2 separate regions of the Homo sapiens genome follow, and region 1 is linked to region 2. A link means that fine-mapping ties the variant in region 2 to the expression of a gene that starts in the linked region. Tissue or cell type: lung. Region 2 holds a variant in brackets; the other region holds the start of a gene. All regions are shown on one strand. Distances are from middle to middle.

Region 1 (8,181 bases), 23 kb before region 2:
TCCTCCACTCAACCATAAGGCAAAGGTTCAGTGGGCTGGGAATACTGGATTCCTGGTCACCTTTTCTCCAGCTACTTCATAGTGTGGAGTTTCCATGCCAGGAGAGTCAAGCTGAAGTTGAAAAGACCAGAGGCTACTACGCCACTCAGGACCATGCTCAAAAAGTAGATGGGTCACTCTAGAAGATGCAAGCCACTGTCACCAACCCCAGGTCCAGAGCAGTGGCTCAGATATGTTGCCCAGAGGAGAGGCATGCCTTAAGAACAGAGAGCTCTGAAGCTGTCCTCAAGTAAACTGACTTGTTTGGAACAGAGTGTGGGGAAGTTCAAGGTTAAGAGTACTGCCAAAAACAATGGAGATTTTGACAGTAAGCAATTAAGAGGAAATGAGTAGCTTGATAAAAGCAACAAGCTCAACCATAGGCCAGCTAGGTTGCCAGAGAACCAGTGAAAGAGACAGTAAGAAATAACCCTCTTGGAGTAAAAACAAAAAAAAGAAAAAGGGAAGATAAAGAATAAGAAAGAGGCCAGGCACAGTGGCTCATGCCTGTAATCCCAGCATTCTGGGAGGCCAAGGCAGGTGAATCCCTTGAGCCCAGGAGTGTTAGACCAGCCTGGGCAACATGGCAAAACCCTATCTGTACCAAAAAATTAATAATAATAATAATATAAAAATTAGCCAGGCATAGTGGCACGCACCTGTAGTCCTAGCTACTTAGGAGGCTGAGGTGGGAGGATCACCTGAGCACAAGAGGTCAAGGCTGCAATAAGCTGTGATCGTGCCACTGCACTCCAGCCTAGGTGACAGAGAGACCCTGTCTCAAAAGAGTAAAAAAAAAAAAAAAAAAAAAAAAAAAAAAAGAAGAGGAACAAAGAAATATTTTAGACCTCCAGTTAAAAATGGCAAACTGGATACACATTCAATTTTGCTCCCTCTCAAAACCACCAAAATAATTTATTTTTTAAGGCATAAAGCTGAAAGGATGACAAGAGGAGACCATTTTGGAAGCCAGGAAGCAGAACAAATTTAAACTTCTCAACAAAACAAGAAAGCCAGACATAATGGGACAAAGCCTTCAAAATTATAAATGAAAATTATTTTTAACCTAAAATTTTATATTCAGTCTAAATTTGATCACATTTGAATAGATCAAGTTAGAATGAAGATATTTTCAGTTTTGTAAGTTCTCAAAAAATTCTCTTCAGTGTACCCATTTCTCAGGAAGTTACTGGAGATTTACTCTCCCAGAACTGAATAAATGGAGAAAGAGAAATGCCTTTGATGCAGGAAGCAGGAGATCCAACCTAGGACAGAAGTAAAGGGAATCCCCAGCATGGTGGTGATGTGAGAAGCCAGGACAACAGCTGTGTGTGGTGTCAAGCCCCAGACTGGGGCAGGTTGGAAGGGTCTGAAAAGCCTTTCTCAGGAAGATATAGAATACTTGATGCATAGAAATTTATTCATAGAAGATTTGATAAAGATTTGAGGGTTGGATTAGTGTTAAGCAATAGAAAACCAAGCAAGCAAACAAACTTTTTAAAAAAAGCAATTATCTTCAGAGAAGATCAAAAGTTATGCAGGATAGGAAAAGTAATCTTAATTTTCTACATGGCTCAGCTGCTGTAAATGGTATTTACAGGCACACCTCGGAGATATGTTGCAGGTTCTGTTCCTGACCACTGCAATAAAGCAAGTATTACAGTAAAGCAAATCACACGAATTTCTGGTTTCCCAGTGCATATAAAAGTCATGTTTATACTATAAGGTAGCCTATTTAGTGTGTGATACTGTTATGTCTAAAAAAACCTAACGGACATACCTTAATTTAGAAATACTTTGTTGCTAAATAATGCTAACAATCATCTGAACCTTTGCCTTCACAACATAAGGCCTAACATTTGGCTTATCTTTGCTTTCACAATGCCTTCCTCACTAAGCTTAATCATTTCTAGTTTCCAATTTTAAATGAAAGACATGTGACACTTCCTTTCACTTAAACACTTACAGGCCATTGTAGGGACATTAATTGGCCTAATTTCAGTATTATTGTGTCTCAGGAATAGGGAGACCTAACGTGAGAGAGAAATGGAGGAACGTCCAGTTGGTGGAGTGGTCAGAACACACGGTCAGAACACCAACACAGAGTTGGTGGAGCGGTCAGAACTGAATTATCAATTAAGTTCACCGTCATATGGGTGCGGTTCATGGCACCCCAAAACAATCACAATAGTAACATCAAAGATCACCATAACCAACATAATAATAATGAAAAAGCTTGAAATGTTGCAAAAGTTACCAAAATGTGACACAGAGACATGAAGTGAGCAAAGGCTATTGAAAAAATGGTGCCAATAGACTTGCTCGATGCAAAAATGCCACAAATCCTCAATTTGTAAAAGATGCAGGATCCACAAAGAGAGATGCACAATAAAATAAAGTATACCTGTGCATATTCCAATATTGTAAACACTGAATATTGATTTAAACAAAACTATAACCAATTTGGATAGAGGAGGAAGAGAGGAAGCATACTTCTGGAACATGCAGTGGGGAAGAAGAAAGCTAAATCTTCACCTTTTATGGTTGGGAGTCAGTAGATTATGCCTGAAACTGAAAAATCAAGAAGTACCAATCCAAGCATGTTATTTAGAGAACTGAGGTAAATGCCTAAAGAATGAGCACAGGTGAAAGTGCTTGCCTCTGAAGAGGAAGAAAGGGAGAGTGTGGGACTGCCGATTTTCGTAAGTTTTGAAAAACTGACTCTTTGAAAACTAGGTACATGATAACCTTGAATAAATTTCATAAATATAAATATGTTTCTATCTCTTCTATATCACTTCACTCACCAGTATTGAGTTTTCAGAGTAACTACTGTATATTAGTATCTAAAAGTTAATTTTCTGTCTTAAAGGCATTAATATGGATGCTAGACTAAATATACAGAAATTCCACTTTTCATAATAATAGCTACCATTACTATGGTCCCAGTATTGTACTAAGCACTTATATTATCTCCAGTCCCCAGAGCAACCATGCAAAGTAGGTACTGTTTCCATTTTACAGATAAGAAATTGATGCTCAAAGAGATTAAATAATTTGCTAGTATGTAGCAGAACTCTCTGATCTCAAAGCCTCTGTTCTTCCTTCCTCCTGGATCCCATCACCTCTTTCTAGAGTTTGCGTTTAAAAGAACTAGGGGCAGGGGGAGGGCAATGTAGCAGTTCAAATAACTCCTCCTTTGGAGGAAGGGCAAGGAAGCAGAAGAGAACCGCTGAAGGATTCAGCAATAGCACTAGGTAGCAGTCTCATGTAACCAAGTTTAACCCACAGTTGAAATTTCCAGTTGGTCATGTGAGCAACGGAAGCAATTTTTAAACTCTGGCCAGGAGCCCCAATGCTTACAAAAATAAAAGCTTTGTTCGGCTCTTATTTTGAAATAAAATAGATGTTCCAGCTGCTCCAACATGGGCCTAAACACTGCAGTGAGAATGCTCAGGACACAAAGTTTTGTGTCCAGAGAAGCCCAGTCATCATTACAAAATTGATCTCTAAAAGGGGTTGGGGGACAGACGGCATAGCTGCTTCCCAAGGAAATGAGTAGGAGGTGACCTGGGTCCTGACTGCCACACTGGCTGGGAGCTTGGACCAGATGATCCTGATGGGTTTCTTCTGAATAAAATTCCGGGTTGTGTTTATCTTGCAGTTTAAATCACTGGGAGCTTCGAGAGTTCTTTGGCTCCTTCCCTTTCTGGAATTATTGTGTGATATAATCAAGACATTTACCTGGCTCTTTAAATCAGTTGGTTTGCCGGCTACAGTGTAGGTAAAGAGTATGTCATAATGGACAATAAAAAGTTGTTTACATACCTCATTTCTGAAAAGTCATGGGCCACTGGCAAGTTAGGAAACGAAAGTGAAATCAGCTGATAGTGACATCAGTCAGAACAAATGTACCAAAGTTCAGAGAGCTGTTTACTAGGCACGACTGCGAAGGCAAGGGGGCACCAGCTCAGGACTGCATCTGCCTGCCATTTCCCTTCCACTCCTCCTTTCTGGAGTCTGACATTAGAAAGCCAGCGAGAAGGAAGATTCAAACAACCAACCCTGATTTCCTGCTTCTCCTTTTCATGAGTGTTCCTGTGGTCTCTGCACCTCCTTTCTGTAAGTACCGATCCTGCAAGCATCACAGCTTACCCAGACGTCTACTACCTTGTAAGACAATTTTGTTTTCTTCTCAGATATTTCATGTTCTGGCAATCCACATAGGGGAACTCACTGGTTGTTCAGTATCTGTGACCCTCCCTCGCTCATGTCTGTATAATCTACATAATCTACCCCCTTTACTCTCTGCTCTCCTTCCTTCCACTCTTCGGCATCAACATGTGTAGCTCTGGCCTCAAAGATGATGAAAGTAAGGCCAGTATAACTGGTTAGAAACGATGCAGGGCTGACTGCACACAGCAGAGTCTTGCACGCAGTGTGTACAAGGACATGGCTGTGGCTTGTGCAATACACTGTTCATCAGAAATAGGTAAACAAAAGCAGGTCACCGACCAACACTAACTAAACCACTATTCAATGGTAGTTACGAACACATCATAAAACTTTAAAATACACACTGAAGATTAATATCAACAGAAAAACTTGTGTTCTTGCCTCAAAGAATGGGACCTAAGAGATGTTTAGATCTTATGTTAGTCATTAGACCAGATTGCTCCTCATGCCCCAGTGGAAATCCATGGTGGTATTTTAGTTCTCTTGATGCATATTTTAAGAGATTTTTTTTAATGTGGGCTTAGTTTCACTAATAACTTCCACTATGCTTCTTCGCCTATAAAATCAAAGGCTCCTTTGAAAGAGGGAAAAGACACATATTTCCTTCTTCCCTCATGATAACTGAAGAGCATTTTTCAGTATCCACTTACCATACCCCATTCCCCAAAATCTCAGGTCTGAGACTCAGTCCATGAGATATTTTTTCAATCTTGCACATATTCCCCTTTCTCAACTTTCTTTCCAGCTTAGTCCCTGCTTTATCTAATTACTAAGGCTGTTTTGAATGCCTGTTTTATAAATTTCTTTTTTTTTCATAAATGTAGCACATAATTCTAAAAATATTTTACTGCAAATAGAGAACAATTGCCTGTAATGTCACCACCCAGAGCTACCACAGCTAACATTAACATTTTCAAATACTTCTTTAGTCTCTTTCTCCTATGCCTCTTTATATGGATGTAGTCACACTATGTAGAGTGATTTTATACCTGCTTTTTCTAAAAGATGCATAGTATTTTATCCTTGATACATCATAGTTTACTTCTGATATTGGACTTTCAAGCTGCTTCCCATTTTGTGCCAAAAGTAATGCTGTGCTGAACATTCCTATGTATAAATTATTGACTGGATTTCTGATTGCTGTCTTAGGATAGATTTATAAAAGTGGGCCAAAGAGATATGACTATTTTTAGGGTTTTTAATGTTTATTGCCAATCTGCCTCCCTGAAAGTTTGTACAAATGTTCACATCCACCATCATTGTGTGAGAATGCCAGTTTAACCATATTTTTGGTATCATCAAGTGTTTTTACCTACAGTGTTGATAGGGAAACTCTGGTTTTTTACTTGGCGTATCTTTAATTACATTAGAAAAGTTACAGAATTTTTTTTCATGTTAGTTAACTACTTTGCATTCTTTGTGAATTATCTCTTCATATTTGTCCATTTTTAATGAGGTGTAATGTTTTTTGACAGTTTGCGTAAACATTTTAAACATTAAGTACATTAATCATTTCATAGTTGTGGTAGATATTTTCCATGCTCATTGACTTTTAATTATATTTATGTTGTTTTTGGTGAATAGAAATCTTTATTTTAGAATAGTTAAACCTGTGCAATTCTTTATTTGTAGTTTCCATTTGCTCTTAAGTTCCAAATTTTATTTTTCACTCATAAATCAAATATATCCTTTTTTCCAGATCATTGATTTTTTTATCTGGTTTTACCTTTCACTCTTGGATCCATGTGAAATTTATTTGGGTATGTGGAGTGAGATGAGGACCTAAAATAGTTTTGTTTCTCTTTTCTAGTTAGCTGATCAATTGCTTCAGTATTAGTTAATGAAGAACCCTTTCAGGACTCAAAACAAATATCTCTTCTGAAGAGAGGCTTTCCCTGACCCTATAATCTAGTCATCACTTCCTCCTGCCAGTTTCTCTCTCTCACTCACCCTGTTTATTTCTTTCCCAAACCTTTTCAAAAATTATAATTACCTTTTAAAAAATACATTTGGTGTTTGCCTTCCCAACTAGAGTACAAGCTCAATGAGAGCAGGCACCTGGTTTGTCCTGTGTGGCACTGATTCCCCAGGGCCTCTGATTCAGGGAGTCATCCAAAATGTGTCACTAACAGAGTTACAAGATGAAATGCTGACCCCACGAGTCGAAGTGGGTGGCAAATTGCCTTTGTAATTGCGGAAGAGAGGGCTGGTGCGGGAAAACTAACCATTGACAGCCAAAGGCAGTCACCAGTTTCTGGTACTACTGATTCTCAAACTCTGAATCTTGTGAATCTTGGCCGCCCACAAACTGGACCGTGGAGTCCTGCCAACAGAAACCAAATGAGATTAGCTGGACGTGGTGGCAGGAGGCTGAGGCAGGTGAATTTCTTGAACCCGGGAGGCAGAGATTGCAGTGAGCCAAGATGGTGCCACTGCATTCCACCCTGGGTGACAGAGCAAGACTGTCTCAAACAAACAAACAAATTAAGATGGCTCATTTGTAGACATTTTCTCATTTTTAAGGATTTTCTTCTCCCTCTAAACTTTTTGTAATCTTTGTTCCCACTTGGATTATCTGCTAGTGAGAGCTAATAGTCAACAAAACAATTGCACAAATAGCAAGTTAATATTAATGGAACCATTTAAACAGCTATCTCAATGGCTTGTCATCTGGGTGCCTGGACTCATGCTTCTGACTTTATGTTATAATCTCATGGTATAGTCCTATTTTGTCTGATAAAGCTGTTTTATTTACATGGAATAATTAAGTAAATCAAAACATCACAGCATTCATTAAAAACTTGGTGGTTGGGATGGCTGTCCACAGAAAACACTGGTGAAATCCAGGAGCTGCCACCACCTACACACTGTTGAAAAACACTGCAGTAGCCCTGTTTTGAAAAGAATTAGAACCTGGACTCATGTTTCTACCAAAGGAAATATGACACATTTCCCTTTCTTCTTCCCTTTTTATTTTTGTGACAGCCACACCTAAACCATGAGCACACTGATCTTCAATGTGTTCCACCAGAAATATTTTAGCCAGGACTGGTGGCCTCTGACAAGTAAACCTGCGCCCTTGTTCTATGCCCTGGCAAGCTCTGTTGCCCCGGCTTTATTCTGCTAACATTTTCTTCCCAGTTCTCCTCTCTCCATTCAGGCGACACACCCAACCATGTCTACCTGACTCTCCGTCAATTCCCGTTTCTCCCACTGAGCTATTGCTTCAGCATCATGACCAGAGCAGACACATTGACCCAGTTTGTGTCAGGCCCCAAGCCCTCTATATGTGAGTGAACTTCCTTCAGTCTCACAACAGCCCATGAGGAACGTGACAACTGATGCATTACAGATGAGGATGTGAGGCTCAGGCTGGCTATGTAACTTGCCCAAGGTCATATGACTAGTGAGTGACAGAACGACGACATGCTCCCAGGTCATCTGGCTCTAAAACCCATGCTCCTTACCACCACACTGTGCTACCTCTCAACAGGCAGCTGCATCCTGGAGTCATCACAACCAAACATAAATGAGACCAGCTTCCTAGAGTTCATCTCTGGGAATGAACCCTGGCACTATTTGTCTTCCTAGAATCTCACCACTGTCAGGCTGGTAGCCTGGGCTTAACTTCTCTGAGCCTCAGTTTTCTCTCTATCGTAGTAATAATTTAAATAATACTTACCAGGTCATGTTCTAAATGCCATGCACAAATTACTTCATTTAATTTCCATAACATCTACAAAATAAGTTATATAATTAAAGCCATTTTACAGATGAAAAATCTAGGCAGAAGGATGTTAAGTAACTAAGGTCACACAGCTGGTGAATGGAAGAGCAGAGTCTTGAACCCAGAAGCCATAGCTTCAAGGTCCATGCTCAGAACCAGTATTCCACACTGTCTTCACT
Region 2 (8,181 bases):
CTGCTCAGGAGAGGGGCAATGGCTAAGAAGTCATCTACCCAACTGGGAACCTTTCCAAGAACACAAACAGGTAAACGCTTCATGTCCCATCCACATACACACCAGTGCACAGTCACGCTCTCCCTAACACACACACGCCCTCCCTAACACACGCATGCCCTCCCAGGCTTCTAGCCTCAAAGACACCCCACGAGCGCACACCCACATGGGGAGAGGCCTGGGCAGCATGGCCGAGATAAGAGCAAGGGAAGTGGCAGGAGGAAGAAGAGGTAGCCTACGGCAGAGGGCGTCTCTCTTACTGACGGTGACCAAGGGTCTAGCCTCTGCCCATGCAGAGTTTCTGGTCATGAGTAAGAGGCTTGTCTGACTTTACCTCAATCAGGATTCCCAGAGCAACATCAACTATCTCAGCCTCATTCATGCAGTACACAGTCCTTGTCGCAGGGAGTCTGAAAAAAAGACATGCAAGGCACAGATGACACAGACTCTCAAGTCTCATAAGGGCAAAGAGAACAGGAGAAGCAGGGCCTCTTCCCCCTGCCTTCCTACCACGCAGGAGGTACCAGCACCTCTGAGCTGAGGAGCTTTCTGACACGGACACAATTTCCTCAGCCTTGCAGCCCAGTGACTGGCACAGGGCTTCATGGAGGCAACACCGGGGTGCCTCCCACCCTCCACCAACTGCCCTACAAGGATCTGGAAGTAGGGAAGGATGGCCGCCTCTGAAACACACACATGGATGCAAGAGGAAGGGAACCTCGGGCTGAGGCTGTACTGAGAGGAACCTGAAAGCAGGACCAGACTTAGGGAAAGACGGCAGCAGTCACAAGGGAAGGCTGTCAGTCAGGAAACCTTAGAGGAGGAGGAGCCAGAGAGGGAAACACCGAGTGCTGGGGCCCCGCCCACTTCACAGTGCAGCCTGGAGACTCACCACCCCCCCCCCGCCCCCCCCCGGCAATTACCGTCATTCAACTAACTCACTCCCCAGCTCCTTAGCTCTTGCTGGCCCTGCAGCTGCTGCTCATCTGTCCATCCCTAAAGGTCTGTCCACAGGGGCAGGCACCACTCAGAACAGACCCTTCCACTGATCTTGCCCATCTGATGTTACCATGTTTGTTGTAAAGGAAGAGACTGGCATTCTGGACAACTGGCATCAGAGACTGGCTGACATGGAGAACCCACTCTGTGTGTGCTGAGGGCAGGGCACTCACCAGTGCAGAGGCAGAAGTGGGTGCCTGTCCTCGAGGGTTAACCCGCTTTGCCTCCCGCCCACAGCCCCTCCACCTTCTAAAAGCTCAAGAGATGATCAGACTGAAACACCCGCCCATCTTGCTGTTCTGCCTAGGCTGGAAGACCTGGCCCAGGTCATGGAGGCCCCTGCTCCACTTGCCAGATTCGCAGGAGTCTTCTGACCAGAGCTGTCGCACCTTGCTGCTGCCACTGGCACTGCTGCCATTCTCATCCTCTTGGGGGCCTTCATTGGTGCCACATTCTTTGTAGCCACCTGGGCTGTCAGCCATGAGGGAAGGACCCTCGTTTTAGTCTCGGATTGTAAGGTTTCCATCTCTGTACCTTCTCACAAAGAAGAGTCAGGGCCCAAGCTTAATGACCTGTTTTTTAATTCAGGAAGGTAAATCTCGTTCTCTCGTCACACCCGGAATTACAGGTCCATTTGTCCTCAGTGGGAGTTGATCTTTGATTCCTACAAAGAACAATAAAGTCCGGTGAATTCCCATACCTCCAGTCATCAGGCACAGTTACTGGTCGGTGCAGGGCAGGCCAGAAGTGACCAAGGCCCAAGAGACTCAGACGGCCATTCACAGGCATCAGGCAGGTGTGATTGTGGGCAGGACAGCAGCTCAGGAGAGAGCCCTCTGACCTCCCCAAAGCTGGTGCCCCCTACAGGCAGCCAAAGCCAACCAGAGATACCTCCTGCAGCCTCTGTGCTGACTGACTCAGCACAGGAGGAACGGAAGGAGGCGGAGGCCCCTAATGTTCCTTCTCATTACCACCCCAAATGCCACTGTCCTCTGGGTGCCCAGCCCATTCAATCCCTAAAATACCTCTTAATGGCCTCTCCCTCATCTGGCCAACTCGATTTCTCTACTCTTCTATGGTGGCTCAGTTAAATGAAACTGAGGGCATTTTATTTCACAATAAAGTCTCATTGGCCAACACGCCGCCCTTAAGCTAAAGATACTTCTGATTGGTCAAACTTGAAGCAGCAATAGGGGCCCGGAGGCATTAACTGTGCCAGTCTGTAGATTCTGAAGCCCACGCCAGCCTCTGATCTAGTTTGGCCTCTCTTTTCCCTATCCCAATTGTTCTGCCTCCACTCAGCAGTCCTGGAGCTCAGTCCTCACCCAGAGAGATGGAGTTGTGACTCAGAGGGCCTAGGTCTCTACCTTCCACTTAGGAATCAAGCCAGAAGCTCCTGAAGCGGAGGTTTGCCCAAAAAAAAGAGTAGTCAGCGATAGTCCTCTCTGAATCATAATTTGATAATGCATTGCTCATCCAGATGGCTGTTTACAATTTAAGAAAAAATATTACCAGGCCCTCCTCCTAACCTGCCCGGCCATGGGGCACACCTTTGCCAATGCACCTTCATTTCTGTCAAAACTCAGTGATATTAGTGACTCCTACCCCCTAAGGCGCCTCCCAAGCGCAATGCTGCAGTCTGTGCGGACAAATTTAGTTCACCCTGGGGTGCCTATTAAGTACATTTCGCAAACGAGGAACTGAGACTTAGTTAACTTGCAGAAGATCACAGAAAAGTTTGAAATCAGCTGGTTGGATTCGCAGCCAGGTCCTGCAGACTCCAGACCCCGCGCCTCCCCGCCCTACTTCTGGGCCCCAAGAGCAGGCCGCGGCAACTTCCAGAAGCCGGGTCTCTGGGGCACCGCGCTCGCGGACCGACCTCAGTCCCATCCCAGCCGCTCCCTGCCTGGGCAGAATGGGGGCCCCGCGGGAACGCGATGTGCTGCCAGTTCACAGCCCGCCCTCCCTCTGCGGGCCGGTACCCGCCGCTGGCGGCGCCGACCTGTGGGAGGCCCAGAGGGCGGGTGAGTGCGGAGCGGAAGGCGCGGGCGAAGCACCGCAGGGGCCTCGCTGACCCCGCCACACGCCGGGCAGGGCTGCAACGGCTCCTTCCGACTGGAGCGGCCGCGCGCTCCTCCGGCCGGCTACTGGCTTCCCTGCTCTCAGGTTCCCGTCTCCGGCTCTCGTGCCCCTTCTTAGCTTCCAGAGCGGAGCCGGGAGGCAAATTCCAAGCGGTTGTGGGACCCACGCCTCACCCGGAACTTTAAGCCCTGCCGTCTCGCCTGGCGCCCAAACTCTGCGGACCTCCACTGGCCGCCCGCCTCTTCCGGCCCCGCGCGCTCCGGGGTCCCGCGGGCTCCCGGCCTCGGGACACTTCCGGTCTTGGGGAACTCCCGGCCCCCTCGCAGTCCCGGCGCCCGGGACACTTCCGGCTCCCGGCAGCTGCCTCAGTCGGAGGTCCGCGGGCGCCCCATGCTGGCAGTGGTAATGCCGCCGGCTGGCATCCGGTTGGCTGCGCGCTGGGAACGCCAGCGAGGCAGCGCCACCGGCTTGAGGAGGGTGAAAGTTCAATTCTTGGCCCCTGAAGTTAGCGGAAGGGAACGGGCATGTTTTGGAAAGGCCCGCCGGGAATTCCCTCAGAAACCAGGCGAAGCTCCCTGCTGGGCCAGGCCCCCCTCGTGTGCTTGAGGAGGATGGGAGCCCGGCCTCGGTTTGTTATCCTAATTAAGTGGAAAATTAAGAAAATAATAGAATAGCGTAAGTACTAATAGTAAAATTATAGTAAGAGAAATAACAATAGCTAGAATGGAATGAATTGCTGTATTAACCAAGGCTAGAAAGAATTTCAGCCCTCCGAAAGTTAAAGCGAGGGAAGAGAGAGACCCTCTCATATTGTTTTATACTCAGTACCTGTTTTTTTTTTTTTTTTTAAAAAAAAAAGGAAGTGAAATCAAAGACAGGCAGCCCAGCGCCAGGCCCAAAACTGGACCTGGGCCTGCCTGGCCTAAACCTAGTAGTTAAAAATCAACTCATGACTTAGAAACCGATGTTATTCATAGATTCCAGACATTCTATAGAAGAACATTGTGAAACTCCCTGCCCTGTTCTGTTTCTCCCTGACCATCGGTGCATGCAGCCCCTGTCACGTACCCCTTGCTTGCTCAAATCAATCACGACCCTTTCATGTGAAATTTTAGTGTTGTGAGCTCTTAAAAGCGACAGAAATTGTGCACTCGGGGAGCTCGGATTTTAAGGCAGTAGCTTGCCAATGCTCCCAGCTGAATAAAGCCCTTTCTTCTACAGCTCCGTGTCTGAGAGGTTTTGTCTGTGGCTTGTCCTGCTACAGTCCTTGGTTCCCTGACCAGGAAGCGAGGTGACTGACAAGCCCTGTGGAGCGTCCCTGCAGAGGACTCCGGCCAGCCTGACTGACGCAATCCAAAGAGCGCTCCCGGGTAGGAAATGGCCCCGGTGGAATGCCTTGCCAGAGCAGCGCATAGCAGGCTCCCGAGAAGGATTAACACTGGCTGAACACCGGGAAGGAACTGGCACTTGAAGTCCAGACATCTGAAGCTTGTCAAGACTAGT[T/C]TTTGGAACTTGCCCCACTCCATGTGAGTGGAAGCATGGCCTGATCACCCACGGTGTGCCTGTATTGACATCTTTGTTCTGGTTTTGACTTGGCTTGACTTGGTAAGACTAGTCTTTGGAACTTGCCCCACTCCACGTGAGTGGAAGCGTGGCCTGATCACCCACGGTGTGCCTGTATTGGCACTTTTGTTCTGGTTTTGACTTGGCTTGACTTGGTAAGACTAGTCTTTGGAACTTGCCCCACTCCATCTGAGTGGAAACGTGGCCTGATCACCCACAGCATGCCTGCATGGGCACTCTTGTTCTGGTTTTGACTTGACTTGAATTGCTGGATACTTTGGTTTTGGTTTTGACTTGGCTTGAATTTTTTGGTACTCGGATTTTGAATTTCGTGATTTTGGTTTGGTATAAACGGTAAAAGTGTGTGTGCCCTCTTTACCTGTTCTTTGTCTTGTGGTATGTGTGGTGTGAGCGTGGTATTTTGTCTGGAAAAAAAAAAAAAAAAACATGGGTCAGGTGCAAAGTAAGCCCACCCCACTGGGACCTATGTTAAAAAAATTTTTTTTCAAGAGAGAATTTAAAGGAGATTACGGTGTTAGTATGACACCAGGAAAACTTAGAACTTTGTGTGAAATAGACTGGCTAGCATTAGAGGTAGGTTGGCCACCAGAAGGAAGCCTGGACAGGTCCCTTGTTTCAAAGGTATGGCACAAGGTAACCTGTAAGCCAAAGCACCCAGACCGGTTTCTGTACATAGACAGTTACAGCTGGTTTTAGACCCCCTTTCCCCCACCACAGTAGTTAAGAGAACAGCAGCATAAGCGGCTGGCAGAGCCAAGGAACGACCAGAAAAGAGAAAAAGAGGCCATCTGTACCAATTCTAAGAGTTTAGACTAAACAAGTTCTTATTAATAGCAAAGGATAATTGAAATCTCAAACTTACAAGGTTTTCAACAAAAGTGAAGTTTGCTAAAAGTTAACAGTGTAACATGTATTTTGGTAACTTCTAATCTTGTGGCCTTAGACAGTCTAGTCCAAAGACATAAAGAAAGTTCGCTTTTTTAAAAAGGAAAGAAAAGGGGGGAGGCAGAATTTATATTAAAAAAAAGTTATATGGTAAATTCTTGTCCTGAAATAAATTAACTGGTTGTTTAAAGAAAAAAAAGTTTGTTAATCAGTCAAAAAATTGAGACATGTTAAAAAATTGTCTGGGAAAGTCGTGAGAAAAAAATTATAAAAAAAAATTTTTATGCAAAAAATATTGTATAATTTAAAAGTAATGAGGCCTCCTGAGTACTATTTAAAAAAAAAAAACCAGTTCATGTGCAAGATGTATAAGAAAAGTAAAATATACCTTTGGTAAAAAAAAAAATTATAAAGGGGCATAAACGTGGATTTTTACCTACATTAAAAGGTTAAAAAAATTATTGTTTTAAAAGTTTAAGCAAGCTTTAAAACGTTAATTATAAAAAAAATTCTGTGTGTAAACATATTAGCTAAGGTTAAAAAGGTATCATCCAGTTTTTCTGTGAACTGGACATTAAAGTAAAAATGCAAGAGGTTTTTCTTAAAGCATCAACCTGCTCTTTAACAAAAATTATAAAAGGTTAAAAAGAGTCTATAAAATCTTACCTTATGGTCAAACATAAAAAATTGGATAAATATGTCTACAAGGTTTTATTAAAATTAAGTTTAACATTAATAACACACTAATATAAAGGTAAAATTTAGCTTATCTGGTATAAAAGTCATACAGGAAGCATTAGTAAATATAAAATAGTGTTTAGCTTTCTTTTGTCTAAAAACTAATAAAAATTGGTGCTAAAGGAAGCATTCATTTTACTAGAGGATCATAAAAGTTAAAGACTTAAAACAAACTTTGGCAATTAAGACAGCATACCAAGATGCAAATGCCTGGTTGAAATGGATCAAATATTCCATCTGCAGGTTAAACAAAAGCAATTAGCATGCTTGTGCACATGGCAGGCCAGAGGCCCTGATTGTCCCCCTTCCACTAAGGTGGTCCTCCAGTCGGCCAGGCATGGGCTGCATGGTAGCTCTTTTCCAGGATTCTATAGCCTGGAGTAATAAGTCATGCCAAGCTCTCTCTGCTATATCCCAAAGTCCCTGCAGGTCAGCCCCCGAGGGCCATCCAGCTTCCATCTCCCAACACTAAGTTCACTACGTGTCTCTCATGGCAGGGAGGAGACTTAGCATTCCTTGGAGACCTGAAGGGATGCAGTGAGCTTAAGAATTTTCAAGAGCTTATCAATCAGTCAGCCCTTGTTCATCCCAAAGCGGATGTGTGGTGGTATTGTGGTAGACCTTTATTGGGGACTCTGCCGAGTAACTAGAGTGGCACTTGTGCTTTAGTCCATTTGGCTATCCCTTTCACCCTGACATTTCATCAACAAGAGGAAAAAATAATAATAAGAAGAAGACATCATAAAGCGAGAAAAGCTCCTTATAGGTCTTTCAACTCTCACATCTATTTAGATGCAATTGAAGCCCCGCAAGGAGTCCCAGATCAATTTAAAGCTTGAAATCAAATAGTTACAGGATTTAAGTCAATATTTTGGTAGATGACAGTCAATAAAAATGTAGATTAGATAAACTACATCTATTACAACCAACAGCAACGAGCTTTTCATGAGTTAAAAAGAAAAACTCATGTCGGCCCCAGCCCTGAGGCTACCTGACCTGACAAAACTCTTTACGCTCTATGTGTCAGAAACAAAAAAAATGGCAGTTAGAGTTTTAACCCAGACTGTAGGGCCCTGGCCAAGGCCAGTGGCCTATCTCTCAAAACAACTAGATGGGGTTTCCAAAGGCTGGCCCCCATGTCCAAGGGCCCTGGTAGCAACGGCCCTGTCACAAGAAGCAGATAAGCTAACTCTTACACAAAACCTAAACATAAACTCCCCCCATGCTGTGGTGATTTTAATAAATACCAAAGGACACCATGCTAGATGAATGCTAGACTAACTAGATGCCAAAGCTAGCTCTGTGAAAATCCCCACATAACCATTGACGTTTGCACACCCTAAACCCTGCCACCTTCCTCCTGGTATCAGAGAGCCCAGTTAACCATATCTGGACTCAGTTTATTCTAGTAGGCCCAACCACCGAGACCACCCTTAAACATCAGTAGGCTGGGAGCTGTACATGGATGGGAGCAGCTTCGCCAACCCCTGCAAAGTGACTCTGAAGAAGACGACAAGCCCTGCTCCAGTCACACCTGGAAGCTGACTGGTCCACGCACGGCTGAAACATGAGGAAACTCATCACAGACTCATTTTCCTTAAAATTTGGACTTGAACGGTAAGGACTTCAACTGACCTTCCTCAGACTGAGAACTGTTTCCAGTATATACATCAAGTCACTAAGGTAGGACAAAAGATTGCTACAGTCCTATTATTTTATGGTTATTATAAGTGTACCAGGACTCTAAAAGAAACTTGTTTGTATAATGCTATTCTATCCAAGGTATGTAGCCCAGGAAATAACCAACCTGATGCGCGTTATGACCCATTTTAAGCCTCCCATGATCACAGTTTT

Evidence for each region. PIP is the estimated chance that this variant, and not a neighbour inherited with it, causes the effect.
Region 1: it holds the start of TMEM140, and the variant in region 2 is fine-mapped to the expression of TMEM140 in lung (TOPMed, PIP above 0.99).

Annotation. Positions count from the first base shown.
Region 1 is chr7:135,144,110-135,152,290 of GRCh38, forward strand. TMEM140 (transmembrane protein 140) reads left to right here and starts at 3,963. Exons shown (of 2, transcript NM_018295.5): 1 at 3,963-4,161. It also overlaps a transcript of CYREN not described here. RefSeq lists enhancers at 3,742-4,241, 7,275-7,484, 7,505-7,654.
Region 2 is chr7:135,167,359-135,175,539 of GRCh38, forward strand. CYREN (cell cycle regulator of NHEJ) reads right to left here and starts at 3,349. Exons shown (of 4, transcript NM_024033.4): 1 at 3,294-3,349; 2 at 1,428-1,702; 3 at 374-449. The coding sequence starts at 1,564. RefSeq lists enhancers at 1,660-1,789, 3,870-4,089 and a silencer at 2,880-3,489. The variant T/C (reference allele first, on the strand shown) is at 4,624.